2 separate regions of the Homo sapiens genome follow, and region 1 is linked to region 2. The links come from fine-mapping of genetic effects on gene expression. A gene starts in region 2. The other region holds a variant in brackets. All regions are shown on one strand. Distances are from middle to middle. Region 1 has its middle 140 kb from the start of RBMX2. Region 2 holds the start of ENOX2 (ecto-NOX disulfide-thiol exchanger 2).

Evidence for each region. PIP is the estimated chance that this variant, and not a neighbour inherited with it, causes the effect. A credible set is the group of variants that fine-mapping cannot tell apart.
Region 1: its variant is the best candidate, but not a certain one, in a credible set for the expression of ENOX2 in putamen (GTEx, PIP 0.76).

The regions. Positions count from the first base shown.
Region 1 is chrX:130,540,243-130,552,600 of GRCh38, reverse strand. No RefSeq gene overlaps it. Among named protein-coding and RNA genes, the nearest start is that of RBMX2, 140 kb to the right of the region's middle. RefSeq lists an enhancer at 1-46. The variant C/A (reference allele first, on the strand shown) is at 4,770.
Region 2 is chrX:130,897,475-130,909,832 of GRCh38, reverse strand. It overlaps ENOX2 (ecto-NOX disulfide-thiol exchanger 2), which reads left to right and starts at 6,624. Exons shown (of 15, transcript NM_006375.4): 1 at 6,624-6,784; 2 at 8,102-8,149. RefSeq lists enhancers at 6,409-6,598, 6,219-6,738, 6,609-6,878, 6,739-7,258.

The DNA.
Region 1 (12,358 bases), 360 kb after region 2:
ATGTGTGAACACGGAAATGCAAAGTCTACTCAAGCAGATCTTGAACTGCCATTGATTCCTTTCAAGTGATAGAGGTTTAATTAGTTGTGTAATGAGGCTGCCTAGGTGCCGAGTGTAACCTGCTCTTAAGGGAGAACCATTTATACTGCCTTTGAAGCCCACCAGAAATGGTGTCAGCTTGCTGCAAGAAGGGCTGAGCCAACTGCAGCTGTCAGATTGTCTCTGACTGAAGCTGAAGAGAATCAATGAGACCTTGAATCTTGTGGAGGAAGCCCGGATGGCGGGCAAGCTTTCAGAAGGGTGTTCTGAGCATTGAGCATTCTGCCAAGACAGCAAGGCTCTATATGTAGACCCAAATAAGATTTTGCTACTCTTTCCTTTTCTCGTGGCTCATTCTCTTCCTTAATACATTTCCTTTAGTCTCTCTTCCTTCAGTCCTATCTCTGAAAAAAAAAAAATCCTCCTTTCTAAGAAAAACCCTTCCACTAATTCCCCTCTCAGCCTCCTCCTCTGTCATCTCTTTATATGAATTGGCCAGTCCCTCCCTCATTTCTAGTGCCTCCCTCTGCAGGCCCCTTCCTCTCTGACTTCAGTGATGCTCTAGACTCCACAAGCTTTTCCTTCAGGCCTCTGGGTTCTCAAGTTGCTGAAGCTTGCTTTCCTTCCCTCCACTACCACACTCATTCCTTTAAATCTTTGAAATCTGGCCTCTAACTCCACCCTTCTACCAAATGGATTCTTTAGGGTGGTCTTCAATGCATCCTGATCACCAACTAGTGTGACTTTTTTCTTCATGTTCCCTCTCCTGACCTCTCCTCAACTACTGTTTGTTTGTTTGTTTGTTTGTTTAAAAAAGCATTGGCCACCTGTTCTGCCATCAGAGCTATCTTAGGAAATAAATTTATCATTCTTACCATCAAAAATCTTCAGTGGCTCCCTAATGTCGGCTAAACTAAGGACAAACTCCTTATCCTGGCTTTCCAGGTCATGATCCTCCATCTGGGCCTCACTGCCACCACCCTCCCCAATCCCTCCCTGATATATACTTTTTAATCTGGCCTAAAATACTTTCTGTTCCCAGTATACATTCTGACAATTCTCGCTTCTGCAGTATTGCTCACACCATTCCCTCCACTTACAAGGCCCTTTCTCATATTTCACAGGTCTAAACCCAATTCAATGAATATTTCTTGGGCACCTATTTCATGCCAGAGACAGATCAGATATTACTTCCTTTGTGAAGCTTTCCCTGGTCCTATAGACAGTGGATCCCTACAGAATTTTTGGTTTTGGGAGGAGGGTATAATCTCCTCATGGAACTTCAAACTCCACAAATACTTTGAATACTGTTTTTGCCCTTTATTAACTCATATGCTCTGGAAGGACAGATGCCATGTCTTTGTATTCCTGGAGTATTTAGCACAATGCTTTCTTCATCATGAACATTCAATAATTTTCTGTCAAATAAATTCAGACTGTGCAATTTATAATGATTTCTACTCATGATTCCAGTCATTTTCCTGAGACATTAAACCTACTGAGTCCTTGCTCTCCCCAAGCTCAGCCAGATAAATGTTCCCCTTTTGACTCCTCTGTTGGGTAAGAATGGTAAGACTGTAGGAACACCATATGCCACCAGTACTAAACAAGGTATGCGAGAGCAACACCTAAAAGAGCATGCTATTTCAAAAAAAGAAGCAACACTGAAGCTACAGAGAGTATCAGATGCCAGAACCAGCAAAGCCACATGCCAAAAAATTGAAGCCAAGGTTGTGAGTGTGGTATCATGTAGGGGATGAGAGAAGCATACAGGTCTCCTGAAAATTTGATGTCCAAAATTTCCTGTACAATCGGAGCTCAGCAGTAACAATTCTCCCAAAGATATCAAGGCTCCAGAAAATGCTTAGACTTGAGGTCCTTGTGTTTGGGGCAGCAGTAAATCTACCTGAAAATAAAAACCTTCAAGAAGTGGATGCTTAGAGAGAAATGAAAAGGCTGAAACATCGGAAACACCTTTGTTTCATGGAAATGACACTAATTTAGTGAAAAGGGGAAGCTAGCTTTAGAGGAGAAAAAAAAAATAGCTCCATCAAACCACAGGTGACAAACAGCTCTTTTTCCCTGTAGTTGAAAGCAAGTGAAATGAGCAGCCAGTGTACCTCACAGGCTAAGGAACATATTAGGATTTGTTTTTGTTACTATTTTAAGTGAGAGCTGACCTTGTGCTTCTCATTTCTGGAATAAGAACACTGTTTCCAGAGGCATCACAGAGCAGTAGAAAGATCACAGGCTTTGGGGCAGAGACATCTCTGGTCAAATTCTAGCCTTGTGCCTATTAACTATACCTTGGAAAAGTTATTGATTCCTGTAGCCCCAGTTTTCTCAACTGTAAAATGAAGACAAACATACCCTCTCTGCAGGGTGATTGGAATGATAATGACAATAGCAGCAGCATTCATTTATTAGGTAGAAGGCATGCTAAGCTTACTTCATGCATATTATTATCTCACATATGCTACCACACAACCATCTGAGCTAGGTTCCATTAATATTAGCACTCCCGTTTTACAGGTGAGGAAACTAGAACTCTGAATAGTTAAGCGATTTATCCAAGGTCATACAGCTTATGAATGGCACAGCTAGCACTGAAATCCAAATCTAGATGTGCTCTTAATTCGCTACTATAGCCAATCTTGCTAGAGACCATCCCACGCCCCTCCCCACAGCGTTGCCCTGTGCATCCTCTCCACCTGGTGTTCATCAGAATCCTTTGCAGTGTCCTTAATAAACCGAGATAGTCTTCATTTATTTCCTCTTCATGTTTCCCCCTCTTTCAAGCTGCCATGAAACACAGACTCTTCTCATTTAAAGAAAATGCTTAGCTGGCTTTTGGAACATAATTCTTTCATTAGCAGGTCTCGCTCTGTCATCCAGGCTGGAGTGGAGTGGCGTGATCATAGCTCACTGTAACCTCCTGTGCTCAAGTGATTCTCTCATCTCAGCCTCCCGAGTAGCTGGGATTACAGGGTAACTTCCTGCAATGAGTCAGCTAAACATTCCTGAATCCAACCATTCTACCCCTGGCAAACTCCAGTATCTGATGCTCTATCACGTGTGGAAACATAAAGTCACTCACATCAGTTTCAACAAGTACACTGCTTAGTGAAATACGGGTCTTTGAAAACATACTGGAATTTGAAAAAAGAAACAACACATTGATGGTAATGTCTTCCTCTGAATGAATGTGTGTAAAACTGTAACAGGCACAAAAACCAAAGCCAAAGAATCAAAGACTTACATCTGTCAAACCTATTCCACAGAAGCCATTTCAATATCAGGGCTATTTCTTAGAAAATGTATCTCACAATTTAAATTTGAAAACAAAGCAAAGCACAAACACCAAGTAGAAGTTACACTACAAGGAACATGCAGGTCAGCCAGGTGTAGAAGATAAATGGTCAAAATATGATATGAAGAAGAAAACTAAGAAAGTACATATAGCAATTCAATCTCTACCAGGTTTTCTGAATAAACATTGGAATTTAATAGAATTAAAAATAACCTCTCATAATGGAAAAAAAAAAGGGAGACCATCTCCTAAAGTAGCTTCACCTTATCCCCGGAGATGGCAGTGGGGACAGTTATCAGCCTATTCCTTACTCCTTCTGTTGCTTCCAGACCATTGTTCCTCTGCCATATCCCAGGAACATTTACTATCCTATTACCAGCTACTTTGCTCTGTCTAGTGAGTCTTGGTTGATTAGACCCTTAACTTTGTTTTTCCAAGGCCACTGGCTGTGGCTTATTCCAGTAACTTCATCGTAGTAGTACTAATAACAGTATTAATAGCACACTTATTGACAGCTTGCTATCTGTCAGGCACTGCACTAAGCACTTTATATACATGGGCTCACTCAGTCATCACACAGCCCCGTGGGGCGGCTACCACTATTACATAAGATCATGCAGATTAAGTTCCTACCACAGAGTAAGCTCAATAATTGCTAGCTTTTATTATAAATGGTATTTTTCAATAGATCTGTGAAATACAAAGCCCACAAAAGGGATAGGTATGGGTAATCTTTTATCTCTTGAGAGCAACTATCCCTAAGTGGACTAAAACTAACTTGAAAAATGTTAACAAGGTTTAGGTTTTATGGGCAAGAAATATAAAAATCCTGCTCAACTGCTTTTAAAATAAAAGGCAAAACTCTGTTCAACAAACGAAAGTGAATAAAGAATAGTTTACTCTCATTTTTGTCTAAATAATGGAGAAAGGAACTAAGGGAAAGAGAAGACTCAGAGAAAGAGGGACCTTTCAAAGAAGATAACACAAATAGTGCATATTGAGAGATCTTGGATTGGATGGGAGGCAGAGAAAAGAGGAAGAGAAGCCACTCTCGATGTTTTGGGGGTTCTGTATCTGGACAACAGAGAGATGCTTACACAAACCACAGGTCCTTCTCTTTGCTGAAATTTCAAGTTCAGAGCCTCTCAAAAGTCCATCCTTGTCACTCATACCCCAGGAAAAAGAAGGAGAGAGAATAAAATCAAGCCAGAGGAAGGAGGAGAGAAACACAGAAGAAAGAGAAAAGAAATACAAAGCACAACCAGCATGGTCCGCCTCACCATACATCAGACACTGTTGGCAGAAGCCTTTGCTCCTTCTCCACTTCCAGCTTTGCCATCTTCATGCCACCTCCCAGTTAGCACTCAGAAAGCTGGGCACACCCAAGGTCAGCAACCCCACACTTTCTCTGACTTCTTCC[C/A]AAACTTAACCACACTCAGCCCAAGGGTGATGCAGTCTCTATCACTGCTGTCGTTGATATCACCCACCCAACTTCTCCCTGGGAAAATTAGGACTCTGTGCAAAGCATCTCTCCCTCTCAAAGGCCATCTCGGGGCATGGGGCCTGCCTTTTAACACCCAGAGATCTCTGTTGAGTTCGCACCACATTCATGTTGGACTCAACAAAATTGTCTGTATATGTATCTGGCTCAGTGTAGGGGGAGAAGGGTACATACTTCAGAAAATTGCTTCAAGTTGTACCAAGTTAAGCCCAGGGCCACATCCAAATAATAGGTTGAAGGTTTCTTATCTTTGCACTGTGGTATAAAAATAGTTTCTTCCTCTTGATCTTGATTCTTCTCTTTGGCAGTGGAAATACAATTCTTTTTTTTCTGAGCAATCTCTATTTTCAATGCAAGTCTTTAGCACACTAACCTATTTACACTTTTGAAAAAGCCTAAGACTATGATGCATTCTCAGACTTCCAGGGACCCTCAGCATTAGAATCCAAGTGTCCTTGCAATTCACTGATGAAGAATGGAGACAGGTGAATATTTGTTATCTGTATTATACAATGAACATTAGTGGTCAGAAGATCAAGGTTATGCACTGCTACATGGAAAGCCATTGTCTTAATGCATTGTGCAATATTCATAATAAAAGGTGAACATTCTTTTTGCAATGAAATTTCTCTTTCAGTCAGAAGGAGCATCTGCTAGGTGAGTAATTTTCTAGAAGGAATGGAATTTTACACCTGTCACAGAGACCATTCCCTATTAGGTCTTTTAAATTAGAAAAGGTTAATTATTTCATGTCTGGTTATAAAGACTTCATTGAGGCTTCATATGCGATATGATTAGGAGGCTATTATGACAAATATCTGATTGTTGGTGTGATAGAGATCACCACTGTGTCTTCTGCAGCTGCGCTGGTATGCCTAAACTGAAAGAAGAGCACATGTGGTGTTTGGTAATGAAGAGTAGCTAGTTGACATTAAGGAGTTCAGGGAGTTGGCATTAATCAAACACACATTACTGTGTCTTGTTCTTTGTATCCAAGAAATCAAAAAGAAAAAAAGAAAGTCTTGGAGTTTTCCAATTTTAGGCATGATAAAAACTAGTTTCATTTAGACCATATCAGATCATTTTTCCCAGATTTTTTTTCTCTATCACATTTGCAACACACTAATGTAACAACTGAGGTTAAAAGCCTTCAGGACTCCAAGTGTTGCTTCCATTTCCTAAATGACAGCAATGGCAGGACACTCCTCCAGATGATGTGGTTCCCATGGTCCATCAACTCGCAACCAGCATTGGTGCATTCCTCGCTTTCCTAGTCCCTTACCAGCTGCTCAGTTGGCCACCACATTCAACTTTGGCCTTGTGTCTACAACATACATGAATGGGCCTCCCTTCAAGGACTTCATTAATAGCCTTCAGCATCTGCTCACATTCCAAGCATTGGGTACTAACTCCAGAGAGGGACCGGCATATGGCTGCATTGTTCTACTTGTCGAAAATGAAAAACACAGGAATGTGCCCTCGACTTCTGAACTTTAAATTTCTGACTACTGCTGCCTTAAAACAAAAAATGTAAACAGCCCTGTTTGCTTGTGTGTGTGTGTGTGTGTGTGTATGTGTGTGTGTTCATGCATGTGTTTCTATGTAAATACATAGAAAAAGATTTGAAAATATTCACATCAAATATGCATCAATATGTTAATAGTCACCCATGAGGACTGAGATTGGGGGTGAGTATATGAGAAATTTTCACTTTTAATACAGTGTAAGTCTGTCTGCATTGTTTGAATTTGGCAACAATTACGCAATCCTGTTATTATTAAAAAATAAAATCTATGTAAGCATAGAGAAAAGTTGATGAGGACACACATCAGAGGGTTTAGAAGTGCTACCTCTGGAAGGTACAATTAGAGAGAAGGACTTTTGCATCCTTATAGATCATATATATTTTAAAATTTTAAATGTTGTGTTTTGGGCATTTTTGTTATACGTAACACTATGGCATTTTTAAATTAAACTTTTAAATTAATGCTTGAAACTATAGTTACAGAAAAGTATTCTAGACCTCATGGATTTTGTTAGTATCTATGACTATCAAGTATTCATTTGGTACTCCCATGTGCTAGTGATATGACTTTAAGTCTAACGATTTTTCTTTTCTTTTCCCATCACCATCGAATGACTTGGGGTTATAAACAAGTGCATAGTTATATGCGCCTTGGCCTGAATGGATAAAGTTAGGAAGTAAAGCACAAACTTTCTGTGCATTCTGTAGAATGTAAGCTTCATGAGGTGAGAGATCATGTCTGTTTTGCTCATCACCACACCTCTAGTGCCTAACATTTTTGCCTGGCATATAGCAGATGTCCAATAAAGGTTTGTTGAATGACTAGATGAATAAGTGTTCAAAACCAAAGGCAAAGTGAGATCTCTGAATGCAGAAATCTATGAGTTGAAATATCAGGGACCATGCTATGTAGAAGGTAAGAGAAGAAGAGAGGAGCACGGCTTAAAGAGACCCACTGAACTGGAAAGTAAAGAGACCTGGGCCTGGCTGGGAGCATGGCTCTCGCCTGTAATCCCAGCACTTTGGGAGCCTGAGCAGGCAGATCACGAGATCAGGAGTTTGAGACCAGCCTGGCCAAAAGGCCAGCCTGGCCAACATGGTGAAACCCCGTCTCTACCAAAAATACAAAAATAAGCCGGGTGTGGTGCCGGGTGCCTGTAATCCCAGCTACTCAAAAGGCTGAGGCAGGAGAATTGCTTGAACCCGGGAGGTGGAGGTTGCAGTGAGCCAAAGATTATGCCACTGCACTCCAGCCTGGGCGACAGAGCGAGACTCCAACTCAAGAAAAAGAAAAAAAAAAACAAAAAAGAGACCTGGGCCTAACTGACGGGATGAGTGTCTTTGGACAGGTACTTTCCTTTCTCTAGAACTCAATGTCCTCATTTGTAAAGTGAGAGGATTAGAATAAATCTATAGTACTCAAACTGTTTACAACAATAACTCATATTATTTAAAGGAAACACAAGACCATGTAAAATAGTTACAAGTGTAAAAATCCATAGAGAAGTCTGAGATGATGTTAACCAAGTGTTAATGAGGGTATTTGGGGAGGATTTTTTAAGTTTCATTATAGTTTTCTCCATTACTTGAATATTTCATAGTGATCATGTATCAGTTTTACAAAAACAAACATCATTGTACTATGTTAAAGTAATGAGCAGACTATGAAAATAAAAGAAATAAGAGAAGTATTACAGTGACCCAATAGGATTAAAAGAGAGACCCTGAGAGTTACAATCTCTCCTGGTAAGATCAAGCCTCCTCTGGACTTGACGCCTCTCTTAAGAACATCAAAGGGCCAGGCGCGGTGGCTCACACCTATAATCCCAGCTCTTAGAGAGGCAGAGGTGGGAAGATAGCTTGAGTCCAGGAGTTTGAGACCTGCCTGGGCAATATAGCGAGACCCCATTCTCCACAAAAAGTAAAAAAAAAAAAAAAAAGGGAGCCCAGTGTTCCACCTGCTCCTAGTGAGAGTGAGACCACAACTCCACCTCACCCCATCATTCCCATTATAGACCACACTGCACTACAGGACACACCAGTCCCAAGGAGAGGCTACATTTAAAACTAACCATCTGTTCCCCAGCCAAGAGATCATCAGGTTTCATCGTGCTCTAAATGCCTATTTACTTCAGTCATCACAAAAGTTCAAACCATCTAGATCATCCATGATCACTCACATGGAAATGAATTCCTGCACCTCCTCATCTCACTCAATCGACCACCCCTTCCCAACCCTCCCAAACCCTTTGACCTTTCTCTCTGCAAAATTCCCTACATTCTCAGCTTCTCCAAAATTTTCCTTGAACTTTTGGGTTTATCAAAAACTCGGCTCCCCTCTGAAGACATTGCTTCCTGTACAGCGCTCTCAAGTGGTGACTATTTTTTTTCTCATACTTTATGTACCACTGGACCCAGAGGTGGAACAGGTGTCCTCTTTGCTCCCCCTTACCACTTCCTGTGTGTAGACCTTCCCCAAACTGCCTGCCCCAGCTTCTTTCAATCACTTTGCTGTAAGACTAAGTTTCAGAGTGTGTTACCTGCTACACCTCCTTGTTGTTATCATCTCCCCTCTTCCTGTTCACTCTCCCTTATTCATTGATGATTTGAGCTTGTGGTTCACTGTCTTTTCACAACTGCCCCTGTCATCTTTCTTGGTGATTTCAATATCTATGTGGAGTCTGCATACATACATGCATGTGTCTGTGCAGACCTACATTCATTGTCTACATTGTGAATAATCCATATAGCACTCTGGTCTCTCAGCTGCTTGACCTCCTCCACTCCAAAGATCTTGTTCTCTCTTTCCATCCTTGGTCACCCACATCCAGGCTTATTTCCTAGATCTCGTCATAAACTACTGCAGGACCTTCAACATCTCAATTTTATTTTTAAAAAATTTCTTTTTAGTCAATGTTCTGCTGAAAAAAATCTCAATTTTAATCACCCCACTCTTTTCTCTCTCTTCCTAATTCCCTCTAATATCTCCACTCTAACAACCCTCCCACTGTTAATCATCTTTTTACCCTCTATCACCCCCTCATATCTTCACTTACATGTTTATTTCACTTAGATTCTACGGTCCGTTATTATCATCACTCCTTGGCATCCATCCTCAGCTCCCCAATTCCCTCTCCCATCATCACACCTACCTAGAAAAACTGGAACAAAGGTTAAGTCCAACTTTTCGTCTTGTCTACATCTGCATCCCAGTAACTGATCCTGGCTGGAGTAAGCTTCGTGTTAAGCTTTATGCCTAAAATCACAAGTGGGCTCTCATTCTCCTTAGAAACCACTCCCAAATTTGAGTCTCTAGCTCTGAACTCCTTCTTGAATTCCAGGCTCATATAACTAACTTCCTACTGAACATTGCCTCTTGAATGACTAACAGGCATCTCAAATTTAATTTGTCCAAAACCAAACCATGATTTTCTCCTAAATCTGCTGTCTTTCTGCATTTACCATCACACTTGTTGCTAACTTCATCCTTTCAGTTCCTCAAGCTGAAACACCTTGGAGTCATCTTTGCTTCTCTTTCTCTTGGGCCAACTCCCATTTCATCAGCAAAGGCTTTTGGGTCTACCTTCCACATATATTCATTACCAGATCACTTCTCACTACCACTATTGCTGCCATCCTGGTTCAAGCTCCCCTTATCTCTTGCCCAGATTACTGAAATAGCTTCCTGCTATGGGTTACAGTCTGTCCCCGCCAAAAATATATGTCGTGATGCTAACCTCCAGTACCTTAGAATGTAATCTTATTTGGAAATAGTGTCATTGCAGATGTAATTAGATAAGTTAAGATGAGGCCATACTGGAGTAGGGTGGGCCCTTAATCCAATATGACTGGTGTCCTTATAAGAAGAGGAGGGAGACACAGAAGGGAGATGGCCATGTGAAGGCAGAGACACACATGGAAAAAGCCATACAATGACAGAAGCAGAGATTGGAGTGCTGCAGCCGAAAGCCAAGGAATGGCAAGGATCAATGGCCACTGACAGAAGCTAGGAAGAGGCAAAGAGGGATTCCACGCAGTCGCAGAGAAACCATGGCCCCAATGACACCTTGGTTTCAGATTTCTAGCTTCCAGATTTTTGAGACAATCAGCTTCTGTTATTTTAAGCCACCTAGTTTGTGGTACTTTGTTAGGGTTTCCTAAGGGAAAATAATATACCTCCCAACTTGTTTCCTTGTTTCTACCCTTGACCACCCACTGTCTAGTTTCAACACAGCAGCTGGAATGATCCTGTTAAACCTCTAAGTCAGCTCATGTCTCTCATCTGTTCAAAACCCTGCAATGGCTCCACATTTCATTCCGAGTAAAAGCCTTACAAAGACCTGTAAGTCCCTATAAAAGCTGGTCCTCTGTTCCTAATCCAGTCCATTCTTCTATTACTCTCCCCCTCACTCACTCTACTTCAGTGACATTGGCCTACTTTTCTGCTCCTCCAGACATGCTTCCATCAGGTCTTTGCACTGTGTTCTCTGTTGTGACAAGTGCAAAGTCTCTGAGGCTTGCCTAGCTTTGAGGGTGACCAGCTTACTTGATTATGCAACTTCACATACAAAGAAGCCCACAGGTCCGAATTGAGGGGTTGGGGGAAGCACAGTGTTGTGAACTATCTATATGAGAAGGCCAAAGTGTTTAATGGCTAAGCAAACAAGACTTGGAGTCCAATAGGTCTAAATTAAGTGATCAAATCACTTACGATTTCTGGGCCTCAGTTCCCTCATCTATAAAATGGGAAAATAACGTTGTGAACCACACTATTAAATCAGATGGAGCATGCAAGGTGCTTGCCACATAGTTAGCACTCAATAGGTATCAGCTATTATTATTATTAATCGATAAAATTTAAAAGAAGTTTAAAACTGAGTACCAAAACACCAAAAGTATTTTGAGGCCTACTAAAAAAATAAACTAGCCTGGCATTTGAATGGACACATTTTCCTGTAGTACAAGTTTGGGCTCAAGAACTTCTTAGGGAAATTCAGATGAAACATTTGTGGAACCCTAGGATTTCACCAAACACAGATAGAACATGACATTTTTCTTTCAGGTGTCTTTCACCTCTGACACTCTCTGTATCCCAACGATGTAGTCATCATAACAACAGGGCAGTGGCACAATCTTGGGTCTGGCAATGGGCTTGCTTCATGGCCAAAGTTCCCCAACAAGTACTACCACCACCAAACACCTTCTCACACAAACCCAGCTCCTGACACTCCCCCCGCTACACCCCAATATGAGGACTGATTTTGCTTTCAAGCAAGGAAACTATCCATTACCTTTTTTTTTTTTTTTTTAGAAAACCATCAAACTTGGCTGGGCACAGTGGCTTATGCCTACAATCCCAGCAATTTGGAAGGTCGAGGTGGGCGGATCACTGAGGTCAGGAGTTCAAGACCAGCCTGGCCAACATGGTGAAACCCTGTGTCTACTAAAAATACAAAAATTAGCTGGGCGTGGTGGTGGGTGCCTGTAATGCCAGCTACTCAGGAGGCTGAGGCGGGAGAATCGCTTGAACTCGGGAGGAGGAGGCAGTGAGCCGAGACCATGCCACTACACTCTAGCCTGGGTGACTGAGGGAGACTCTGTCAAAAAAAGAAGAAGAAGAAGAAAAGAAAACCATCAAACTTAGAAAGAAGCAGATTATTTCTAATTTATAAAAATAAAAACAGGTCTCACAACTCCAAAGAAAGGGTGATATATCTAGGACAGGACCACTGGCAGGGTAATTGTGACAATTCTGCCTCGCAGAAGTGTGAGAAAATTGTAGGAAGAACCTACGGAACATCAAGAGGATTCATGCTACTACATAGGGCAAAAATTTAAAATTAGGTATAAATGAAAAATCCAATATTTTAACAGTCATGATGTAGACAATAGAGTCCACATCTTCTGATTTTAAAAGTAAGCCGATGTAAGATAGATTTAAAAAAAAAAAGACCTGGATAAAATGCTGATATTTTAAAAGATG
Region 2 (12,358 bases):
TGAGTCTCTAAACTAGGCTACAGACTGCATGACCTAACTCTGGGATATACTTAACATCCTGAACTGACCACAAAATGAGTGCTCAGCATAGATACTAACTGAGCTCTAGCCCTGACTACAGACTGAGGCTCTAACTTGGTCACAGCCTGAGATCTGATCTTGGAAACCAACCCAGCTACAATTTCCCAGACTTAGCACTAACCAGAAAATGACCCCAACATTGGCAACAGAATGACTACTAAACTTGGCCTCATACAGAGACGAAAACATGTACAGAGACCAGACTCTAAACTTGTCCCAACTCTGTGCCTTAATCATGGCCAAGAAGTGAAACCAAATCTTCCACAAAACTTGAGAATATTTTGACCACAGCATATGTCCTAATCCTGACTATAGACAGAACCCTGAACATGGCCACAAACTGAGTCTTAACCATGTTCAAAGCCCAAGTTCTAAACCTGGACAGAGACTGGGTTCATAAATCTGATCAGGAAATAATCTACTGATCCTGGGACAGACTGAGCCCTATCACTGGCCACTGATTTGACCCCTAAACCTTACAGCTTCTAACTGGTTACAGACTGCATCTCTAACTCTAGCCATAGACTGAATTCCTAACTCTCATCACAGACTGAGCCCATAAGCCTAACCTCTGACATGAGCTTTCAACCTGAAAATAAATCTGATTTCTCCAAATGGCTAATGACTGATCCTGAATTTTTGAGATAGACTGAACCCTATCTCTGGCTAAATGTTCACCCGAGACTGGATCCCAATTTCAACCACAACTTTAACTTTAACCCTGGCTACCGACTGATTCCTAATACCAGAAATTAAGCTGCTCACCAGCACTGGGCAGAGACTGAACCCAAACCTTGAAGATGAATGAAGGACAAACTAGACAAAGACAAAACAAATACTTTTCATTTTCTTGGCCTAAAACCCTGCAACAGATTTAATTCTAACCCTGAGCACAGACGGAACTCACCATGGCTAAGATCTGAGCCCTCTTCCTGGCCACATTCTGAATACTGAGCTGGGATGAAGACTGTAAGTCCCACCACAGTCTGAGACCTAAAGGCCAAGCCCTAAGCCTGGTTAGAGAAATGATTCCTGACCCTACAAGACTAAATCAAAATCCTGCTCATATTATCAGATCTAACAACAGGCTGAGACTAAGTACTCACCTTTGTCACATATCAAGTCTTAAACCCATAAACAAAGTTCACTGTATTAGTGGCCACAAACTGAGTCCTAGCACTAGCTGGAGGTTGAGCAATCAGTCTGGTCACAAACTTAGTCCTCAATTGTGAATAGATGTACCCATGGCACTGGGCACATTATGGTCACTAACAATTAGCAAAGACTGAACTCTACTACTGATACCGAAATGCCTGCTACACTAAGCCAGAGTCTAAGTGCCAGACTGACAACAGGCAATGAACACTCTGAACTCAAACCCTGGCAACATCCTGATCCCAAAACCCTGATTACAGCCTGAGCCTCTAAAGCTTTCAATCTGGATTTTATGTGTTGTTTGTTCTCATCTCAACTCTATCCACTGACTGACAAATAACATCAACAGCTAATCCAAAAAACCTGTTTACACTCTTAGCCTTAAAACCTTCTTCATAGTAAGCCTTACCTTGGTTATTGGTAACTCCCAAACTCTGGTACAAGTTTAATCAGATAGCACTACCACCAATACTCAGTGAACACAAATGCTACATAAAGTCATAGTGGAATTACTCCCTCCAGACTCAACTCTGATAGTGGTCAAATTGAAATGGCTAATACAGGTCACCGACTGAGCCCTGCTCTGGCCACAGAATGAGGGCCAACACAGGCCACTGTGAGTTAGCTCCATAGAACATTGTTGATATGAGCTATGGACAAAGACAGAATCCTGACACTGGCTAAAGTCAGAAACCACACCTTGAACTTACTCTAGCCAAATATGCATCCCAAATCCTGTTCATATTCATCATTGAAATCCTGGCCACAAACTGTATCATAATTTTGTCCATATATGAAATGCTAACTCTGGTTTGAGACAAGGCTCTAGGGCACATGACAGGTAATGTCCTAACATGGCAACAGACTGAATATTAGACATTGACTGTGCCTTACCATTGGCCACGGACTGAGACTTAATTATTGGACCCAGAATAAACTCTAACCATGAATACGAATTGAAACTTAACCTGAAGAAAGACTGAACATAAATCCTGTTCATATTCTTACTTCATTTTTTCCTAGGCAACATCATCAGCATGAAGACTAATCCCAGGCAGAGCCATGGTCCTGGCCTTTATTGACTTTCAAGTCTAGAAATGAAAGTGATTCCAACATTGATCAAAAACTAAAGTCAAACATTGAGCTGAGCCCTAACCTTGGGTGTGGTCTAAGTCTGGTCCACAGACTGAGCCCTAACTCTAATTTTAGAATGAGGCCTCTTCCTACACACAGACTAAATCCTAATTCTGGCCAAAATTTGAACCCAAATCTTGCACCTTGACTTCATAAACCAGGCCACTCTAGACTTACAGCAGCCTCAGAGTGAGCTTTAACACCCTGAGGCTGCTGTTAGTCCAGAGTGGTCAGAAATGCACTTTAATCTGTGACACAGACTGAACCATGGCTCTAAATCTGGGGCCTAATATTGCTATCAGGCTTAACCCTAAGCTTGGTTTGATGGTCTTCTGATCCTGAATCCACAATGGCCTGTAAAAACAGCTACAGACTTACTAAATCTTAACCTGAGAAAAGATTGAAGCTAAATACATTCCACATTATACACATGAACCCTGGCCTTGACCTGGGCTCTACACTGGCTCTGGATACAGCTCTAACCTTGACTTCCTAATTGTTCTCTGAATCCAGCCAGACTGTTTGACCCTGGGCCAGTATTTCACAAATTCATCTTATTATATAACAACAGACCAAAGAGTATCACGTTTGTATATACACATACAAATATATGTATACATTTGTGCTTATATATAATATATATTATATATAAAATTTCTGTATGGCTTATTGGAGATATAGATATGTTTTATATATTATATATAAAATTTCCATATGGCTTATTGGAGATATATATATGTGTGTGTGTGTGTATTTATATCACCATACAGAAATAGCCATACACAGCTGTGACATACACAGTAAGAAATATTACTTATCACAGCTATGTATTTTAATTATTTATCTTGTTTGTTGATGGCTTCTTCCTAACAGAATATAGCCTCCAAAGGGAAGGGATGTTGTATGTGTTTTCCACTTCTCTATTCCCAGCATCTAGAATAATGTCTGGCACATTATAGGTACTCAATAAAAACTTGTTATATTGATGAAGGAGTAATTTCTTCTTACTATTCTGTCCTGCTACTTGACCTCTCTGTAATATATGCCAGTAATTCTACTTTGTTTTCTCTTGGTTCATCTGTTTGGGCATTCCCTCTCAGCTTCCTTGGAAGGCATCTCTTCTTCTACTTGCTACTTGAATATCATTATTTTCCAGGATTCCATAATCTTTGTCTTTTTAAAAACTATTATTCTAAATACTCTCTAAATTGGCTGGGCACAGTGGCTCACGCCTGTAATCCCAGCACTTTGGGAGGCTGAGGCGGGTGGATCACTTGACGTCAGGAGTTCGAGACCAGCCTGGGCAACACAGTGAAGCCCCATCTCTACTAAAAATAAAAAAAAAAATAGCCAGCTGTGGTGGCAGGCACCTGTAATCCCAGCTACTCGGGAGGCTGAGGCAGGAGAATCACTTGAACCCAGGAGGCAGAGGTTGCAGTGAGCCGAGATTGTGCCACTGCACTCCAGCCTAGGCAACAGGGTAAGAAACCGTCTCAAAAAAAAAAATACTCTCTAAGTAAAGTTTAAACAATTTTTCACTTATTTAATTGCCCTCTATATTATACTAATGTCTCCCAAATGTTTAGTTCCAAGCAAGACCTCTCTCCCAAGCTTCCGACCGGCATTTCTCAGCAGCCTATCAGGCATCTCCAACCAAAAGTTCCACAGACTCTTCAAATTTTAAATGTTCAAAACTGATTTCCTCCTATTCTTCACAAAACTTGCTATTCTTTCTAGGTTCAATATCTCAGTGAATGGTACTACCATACACTTAGTCTTCCAAGTCAGAACTTGGGAGTCGTAATGGACTCCTCCCCGTCTCTCACTTTCCACATCTACCAACTCCATCTGATTATTCCATTTCCTGCTAGAAATACTTTGATGAACAGGAACCCATGTTTTAACTCACCATTAAAACCCAAAACCTGTCATAGTGTATGGAACATAGTAGGTGCTCTGCAAATACTTTGAAATCAATGATCAAATCAAAGTAAAGAGTCATGGAAAAAAAGATAAAAAGAAAGGAGACAAAGCTGAGAAAAGAAATTCTGCATTTGATTCACACAATGTTTTTCTGGTGGCCATAATACTGAAAATGCCTTGTTTCACTCCTTTTTATGGCTGAAATGAGGTGATTTTTCTTTTTCTCTTTTTTCTTTCTTTTTTTAATTTTTTAATTTTTTTTGAGACAGAGTCTTGCTCTATCACCCACTACACTCGAGTGTAGTGGTACAATATCGGCTGACTGCAGCCCTAACTTTCCAAGCTCAAGGGATCCTCCTGCTTCAGCTTCCTGAGTAGCTGGGACTACAGGCATGCGCCACTATGCCTGGCTAATTTTCTTGATTTTTTGTAGAGACAAGGTCTCATTATGTTGCCCAAGCTGGTCTCGAACTCCTGGGCTCAAGCAATCCTCCCAACTTGGTGTCCCAAAGTGCTAGGGTTACAGGCATGAGCCCCGGCACCCAGCCGATTTTTCTTTTTTTAAAAAAGCAAATTATTTTCCTGGAGGAATTTAAAAGTATAAAAAGTATTAAAACATAATATAGCAATTCAATTACCACCCTCCAGAATGATTCCCCATAATACCCTAGCTATGTGTTCCCAGTATGTTCTATGTGTATATGCTTTAAAAAATAAACACTATATAAGCACAAAAATTCCTCTGATGGTTCTCTCCCACTTTCAAGTTAAATTATGAACTAATTGATATGACCCCTTGTTGCTGCCTGATCTAGTCTCTGCAATATGGAACTTTTGCTATTGTTCTCTGCACTCTTTCATGCCTTTATGCCTTTGCATATGCTTTGTATAGAATATGGTTGACCTCCCTGCCCCAAATCTGACAAATATTTTACTGGTTCTTCAACCAGTTCTCCAGAAGTAGAACAAGTTCTTCCTCCTCTATGTTCCTATAGAACCCTATGTAGACTTCTTTACAGCATTTTGCACATTGTATACTCATCTATTCCTCCCCCCAGATTCTCCTCTACTACAACTCCCCTCACCTGGATTTTGAGCTACTTGAGGGTAGGGACTATTTTTCCAATTCTGTGGCAACAGTGCCTAGCCCAGAGCTTTGCACAAAGCACTATGCTGAATAAATGGTTGAATTTATTAAATCGTCTTCCTCCTTCACTTATCTTTTTAAAATATTGGGCAATTACCTCAGCAAAATGCAATTCCCCTGTCTTTCCCTTCATTTTACTCGTGAGTCGAAAAGTTGTCCTCATCAAGAAGTTGTAGTAATTCAACTGTAACAAGGCTACAAGGATTCATCTCTAACAGAGAAAAAAAAAGGTCAAAAGTTGGGAGTGAAATTAGCCCTAATAAACAACCATTTTCCTCAACCTTTAAGTCACTTGGAAGTGCTTGGCATTCCCCACCTATGTCTTTATCCAGCTCTTGTAACATATTTTTACTCAAAAGGTTAAGTTTCTTAAAGACACATATAGTTACTCGTTTGTACTTAAGTTGTATTGTCTATCTGTTCTAAATTGTTATTTATAGCAGTTTATGTGGCCACTGTTTTTCATGGCAACAACATAGCTTCATTATGGATTAAATAGGCTTCTTCTGGGCTGGTGTAGATCACATTTCTATGCCTATTTATGACACTGTTTCCAGGGGGAACTATAATTTCCAATTAGAAAAAAATATATACATTCTTCCATACCTTTCAAGTGATTTTAATGCAGGTGGTTCACAAGGAACACACTTTAACAATTTTAAAGGACTATAACTCTCAATTAAAATTCTAAGCTTACCAAAGAATAAACATCATCTTTTGAAAAACACTTAAAACTCAATAACAATTTCAAATCACGATAGAAAGTGCTTCCCGCAAAATGCTAAGAGCTTAACCGACATGAAAATAAATCTAGAGCCTTCGTCTGTCCCCACAAGCACAAACCCATAACCCCAAGAGAGATTCTCTAGACAGTGCACCCAAACTACAATACCCAGAATACCCTTCCCCGTCTGAACGCTGGGGACAATCGGAAGGGGAGGGGAAGAATTGTGCGTATAGAGAAATAAGTGTCCCGCAACTCCATCTCCCATAATTCTCGGTCCTCACTTGTGTCTGTCTGCCAATGTCAACACGAGTTACCCCCAGGAAGAACAGCCTCCAGCGACCTCAAACTACATTTCCCATGAAGCCATGGGCTCGGGCCTCCGGCTTCCCCGGTGACCAGTAGCCAATAGGAGACGCCGCAGTGGGCACCCTGTGTGTGAGAGTCCAGCCTTGGGCCAGAGTGCCGGGTCTAGGCCTGGAAGCGCGAGGCGGGCATTTCGGAAGAGAGTGGCGCGGCGTGGGGCGCCGCGAGGGCACTACGAGCCCAGGAACTGCCGCGCCGGCCCGATTTTCCGCGGCTGTATAAGGACTAGCGCTTCGGTAGCCGGGGAGCTGGAGGTCAGAGAGGCAGAAAGCCCCGGTGGCCGTGGCTGGGGACTGTGGGACTGAGGGGGCCTAGGGAGGAGGGTGCTTCCGGGGCCGCGGTCCTCAGCGCCTAACTCCACCCAGCTCCACCTCTGCAGGGGAGGGGGTATCGGGACTGGGAGTCGGGGGTGGGCTTTTGAGCTCTAGGCGCCAGTTCTCTTGAGCCCGGGAGCGCGCTGTCTTTGCTCTTTTTTTTTTTTTTTTTTGGTCCAACTCGCCCGCCCCTTTTTTTTTTTCCCACGACGCCGCCCCCCTCCCCCTGGCTCTGTGCCTCCTCAGAGGTCCGAAGTTGGGGTTTGCGTCCAGGGTTTTGCCTAGGCGGTGACTGGACTCTAATTCTTACCGCAGGAATTGGGTGATCTCTTTCCTCTTTTCCCTCAATTTGTATTTCAGGTTTGGGCACATAACCCTCCCTGCGCTACACTCCCCATTTTCTTTGGGGCATGGGAATTCCTTGCCACGCTCAGGGCGTGACTTTTTTTTTTCAAACTTTCTCTTTTTGCCTCCTTAATTGATCGCCATCTCTTTACTGGCCCCTCAGCCACCTGCCACTTCCCCCACCAGGTCTTTGAAGTGGGGAGAGTTTCCCCTCAATTTCTAGAAGGGATGGGAAGCAAAAGAGGGAAGGAATCTTGCTTTTGAGAAATGTGTGTTTAAGGTTCAGTGCAGGGTTCTGGTGAGAGTAAAAGGCAAGTTAGACTGGTTATAAAAATCCAGCGCTTTAGGGGTTTCCAGCAAAGACTGATAGCACTAATGTTGACAAACATTTAGGGGGCACACCTTTATTCTACAGAATAAAGTAGACCGTGTGAAACAGACCATATTAATCATTGTATTATTACAAACGTGTGCAAAAAACGCTAAGAGGGGTCAGTGGAAGAGCATACTGATGGGGGTGGTGAGTTCATCTATGGAAGTTCAAGCCTAACCCGGGAAGTGCTGAAGCCCTCATCCGGCTTTCAGGCTTTGTGAAGGAGGTGAATTTTAATCTGGGCTCCAGCAGAGTACAGGGGATTTGAAGTTGTCAAAGAGGAGGGAGAAAATGCTTCCTGCTACTGAGATTGGACTTTGAGAAGGGTAAACAGAAGAGGGAGCACTGTGAGACAGGTGGGCTTGCCTGATTGGAATAAAAGATATCAGCACAAATATACTGGGAAATAAATAGGGTGGAGAAGCTTGGGGTCATAATAACATGATACTTTGAAACATACACATAGTTTGGATATTATTCTGTATCAAATAAAATTGAAGGCAAAAATTAAGATTGGATGATTTTTCTTTTCATCCTAGGGAACCTGATTTGAGATCAATTCTTGGAGAACACAAAGAAGTGTGATGGTATGTTCCAGGTGTGAGTTTAAATCCAAGAAGAAGCTTGTCTTGCAGATGTTTTGTTTGTAGCTATTCTTAGCTACAGTCTATAGCTGTCAACTTTAAAGCCTAGAGACATCGATATATTTTCTTAAGAAATGCATTTGCTGTCCCCGTGCATCACATTATCTGAACTGTAGTCATCTCATTGGGTGACAATAATGACTGCTATTTATTGAACCCACATAATGTCCTAGTCATCATCATAAATACTTTGTTGCATTATCTTGAGTGTTATGAAGTAGGTACTATTATTCCTGTTTCTTTTTCTAGAAGAAAACACTAAAATGCACAGAAGTTAAACAATCTACTTAAAGTCACATAGATTATAAGTTGAGTTGAGGTTTGGGTGTACAGATTTCTGACTCCAAAGCCCATGCTCTGTTCAACATGGTTTGCTGCTCCCAATGTTCTTTCTTGTTCTTGACTTTCCAGTTGTGGTAAGGAGAGATAGGTATAGTTCATCATCCTGGCCAAAACCCAAATGATTCACTTAAAATTTCTATGTCAGAATGTATTTGCTGTAAAGTAGCTGCCAAAACCAAATTAACTGTCATTGCAACTGTAGCTAATTGTGTCTGCCAAAACCATAGTCAGTACGGCTATTTCTGAATTAGATGATTCTCTTTATAACACATATCATACCTCTAAGCTATTTGGACCTTGATAGCACTTTGGATGTATTTTATTTTAGCATTTTAAGAAGTTACCTGGGACACTAGATCTCTTTCATGACCTCTGCCCACGTGAAGTGTTGGAGAAACAATGAAGTACAAGGTGTGAACTCTTCCTGGGGTCTAGCTGGGGAGCTGGATGCCCACAGTTCTGAGATACTGTAGTGTGTAGTATAACAGAGACAGGTACAAAATGCTATGGAGGGATAAAGGAAGGTGTGACTCACTGTAAGGGAGACTCGGGGAGAAGGCTTCCATGAGGAGGTGACATGAGATAGGTCTTGAAGGATAGTGAGTTTGCCCCAGGCAGGGAAGGAGTGGAGGGGAGGCATTTCAGATAGAGGAGTCAGTCTGTGAAAGATGTGTGGCTGTATAAGAGTAGGGCATGTTCATTCAATGTGGAAGAATTCAGCATGGTTGGAGTGCAGATAGTTGAGTAAAAGGAAACTGTAATGGGTAGGAGAAGAGTCTGGAAAGAGGTTGGGGCTGATTTGCAAAGAACCTTGATTGCAATCCTAAGTTGGAATGTGCCCCCATAGGTCAGTGGTTCTCAAAACGTAGGGCATCTGCCAGTGGTAGTTACACTGTGCTCCCACAAACATTTTAATTTTACTAGTTACATGTTCAAATATGTCTTAAAAAACATAAAACTGAACTAAGCCATCACATCTAAGATTACTTTGGATTTTACTTCATAAAAATAGAAAGTGAACCAGTTTTCAGTTCATTTAAAGACAAATATTAAGTAGTAATAGTACACATTGTGTGTGAATATGGTAAAAATCACTAAGTAATACTCAGACTGAAATTTGGGAAGTGCTGCTTGTAGGCCATAAGAAACCATTAACATGTTTTAGAAGAGCACCACGATCAGATTTTTACTGTAAGGAAAATGACAGTGGGAAGGATACAGTGGAGGTGGATATGATGAGGCTGCTACTCTGTTCCACAGAGAGACAATAAAGACCCAAGAGTAGTGACGTGAGCGGAGCGAAGAGATTTGAGAAACATTTAGGAGGTAAAATTATTAGGACTTGGTGGATGTTAATATTATTTTGTCAGTGTTACCAGAATTGTTTTAAAAGTCTGCATGCCCCCCTTGCCTCTTGTCCTTTATATTGTATGGTGAGCAATAATATTGCCAAAACATGCTATGTTTCTATGTTCATTAAGATTACAATGGAAGCTATAGTTACCACTCGAGTGGATTTGGATTACACACAAACATCCTTCCCACCTTACTCAGTGTCCTTGAGAGCAGTAGCACAAATATTCAAGGCACTGATTAGGAATATGACCATGATCTGTGACCCTTAGGCATGCAAGAAATTCCTCAGCCTTTAAGACTCAGCTCATATGTCAACACCTCTGTGAAGCCTTCCCGACAGCCCTTGCCCAACATACATGAATGCACGCACAAGGCAATGTTAGGCCTCGGGCTTCCACAGGACCCTGCACTTAGTTACCTCCGTCCTAGCCTGTACCACACTGTAGGGTGTCGGTCTGTGGATGTCTCTGTGTTCCCCACTAGACTGTGAACTCCTTGAGGGCAGGGACCAGGTTTCATTCATCTCCATACCCATAGCATCCAGAAGAGCACTTGACACATGGTAGTCACCTAATAAATGGTTATTGGGTGAAAAGAATTGATAAACAGATTTGCATGAATATAACTGGGGACCTTGGTAGCACAGAGTGCCAAATGCTATGAAAAGACTAGCTGTTTGCTACATTTGCTACTTTTGCTGAAGAAAGGAGTAAATTAAAGTGCCCATAATTTCATGAAAGACCTACTTTTTCCCTCTTTTCTTCACTCTCCCCTGGTTATCTTACCTTTTTCTTTCCTATCATTTACCTATCCAGGCACCTATTCCTTAGCCCTGCCCATTACTTTGCTGCTCTTGACAGAGTTCATCTTCCTCCTGCCCTGATACTTTGCCAGGAAACATCCTTCCTTCTACCCACCCAAGTCCAGTACACTCCGTCCTTGACATCACTCTCAAGTTCATCTCCTACTCATAGACTCTGCTGCTGGGACTATAATTTGATACAGCTCTTCTGGAGAGCAATTCGTCAATATGTATCAGAAACCTTAATAGAATACAGCTTTTAACCTACCACTTCAACTTCTAGAGCTCTATGCTGAGGAAACAATCATGATGTTTCCAAAAATTTAATACTCAGGACATCTATCCCAGAGTTGTTTATACTAATAGCAAAAACAACAAAAAAAAAAAAAAGAAAAAAAAGAACATCTTAAATGTACAATACTAGGGATTTGAATGAAATCAATTGTGGTACATTTATAGAATGGATTACTAAGTAGCCTTGTAAGTTGATTTTACCAAACAATATTTAATGATGTGGAAAATTGTTTTTGATATATTAAGAGAAAATTCACATCATAGAACTCTCAGTACAGAGTGACAGATCCCAGTTTAAAAACATATACATAATACACACACACACACGCACACACACACGCACACGCACACACACATCTGTGTAGGCATACATAGGAAAAATCCTGTAATGGTAAACACACAAAAAAATATTAATAGGGGTTTGCTGCAAGTAGTAAGATTGCATATGACTTCTACTTTTAACCTTTTGCGTATTTTTATTTTCTAATCTACAGTATATTTGTTAATTTTTAAAAAGTTATTTTGACCAGGCACAGTGGCTTAACACCTGTAATCCCAGCACTTTGGGAGGCCAAGGCAGGCGGATCACCTGAGGTCAGGAGTTTGAGACCAGGCTGGCCACCATGGGGAAACCCCGTCTCTACTAAAAATACAAAAATTAGCCGGGCGTGATGGCATGCGCCTGTAATCCCAGCTACTCGGGAGGCTGAGGCAGGAGAATTGCTTCAACCCAGGAGGCGGAGGTTGCAGTGAGCCAAGATTGCACCACTACACTCCAGCCTGGGAGACAGAGTGAGACTCTGTCTCAAAAAAAAAAAAAGTTATTTTAAAATGTTTTCCCGGTGTCCACCATTGTCTTACTTTGGGGCATACCTTCCACCCCCCAACACACATGCATCACTTCTAGCCTGGATTACTGCTGCTTCCAGCCTGCTTCCCTTCTAGTCTACTCTTTACCAATGCTGACAGAATGATTTTTGTAAATCACAAATCTAAAACCATCTGGTCTCTATATAAAATAGTTCAAAGGCTGTCCATTGTCTTCAGAGTAATATCCAGACTTCTTAGACTGCCTGATAAAAGCTTTGAAAATCAGCTCCCTGCTTGCTCCTCTAGTATTAGGTTTTCCTTCTGTGATTTACTTTTTTGGGGGGTCTTTGGCCAGTGGCAGGCACATAATAGGTATTTAATTAATGTTAGCCAATGTTGATGTGGACTGTATGGATTAGCTATTTTATGCCAGGCAATCTACTGGTATTTAATTCTCAGAGCAAAAATATTAAACACATAAAATAGTTATTCCTATTTTACAGATGAGGAAAACTAAATACATCAAAGCGAGAAGAAAAGTTATCATA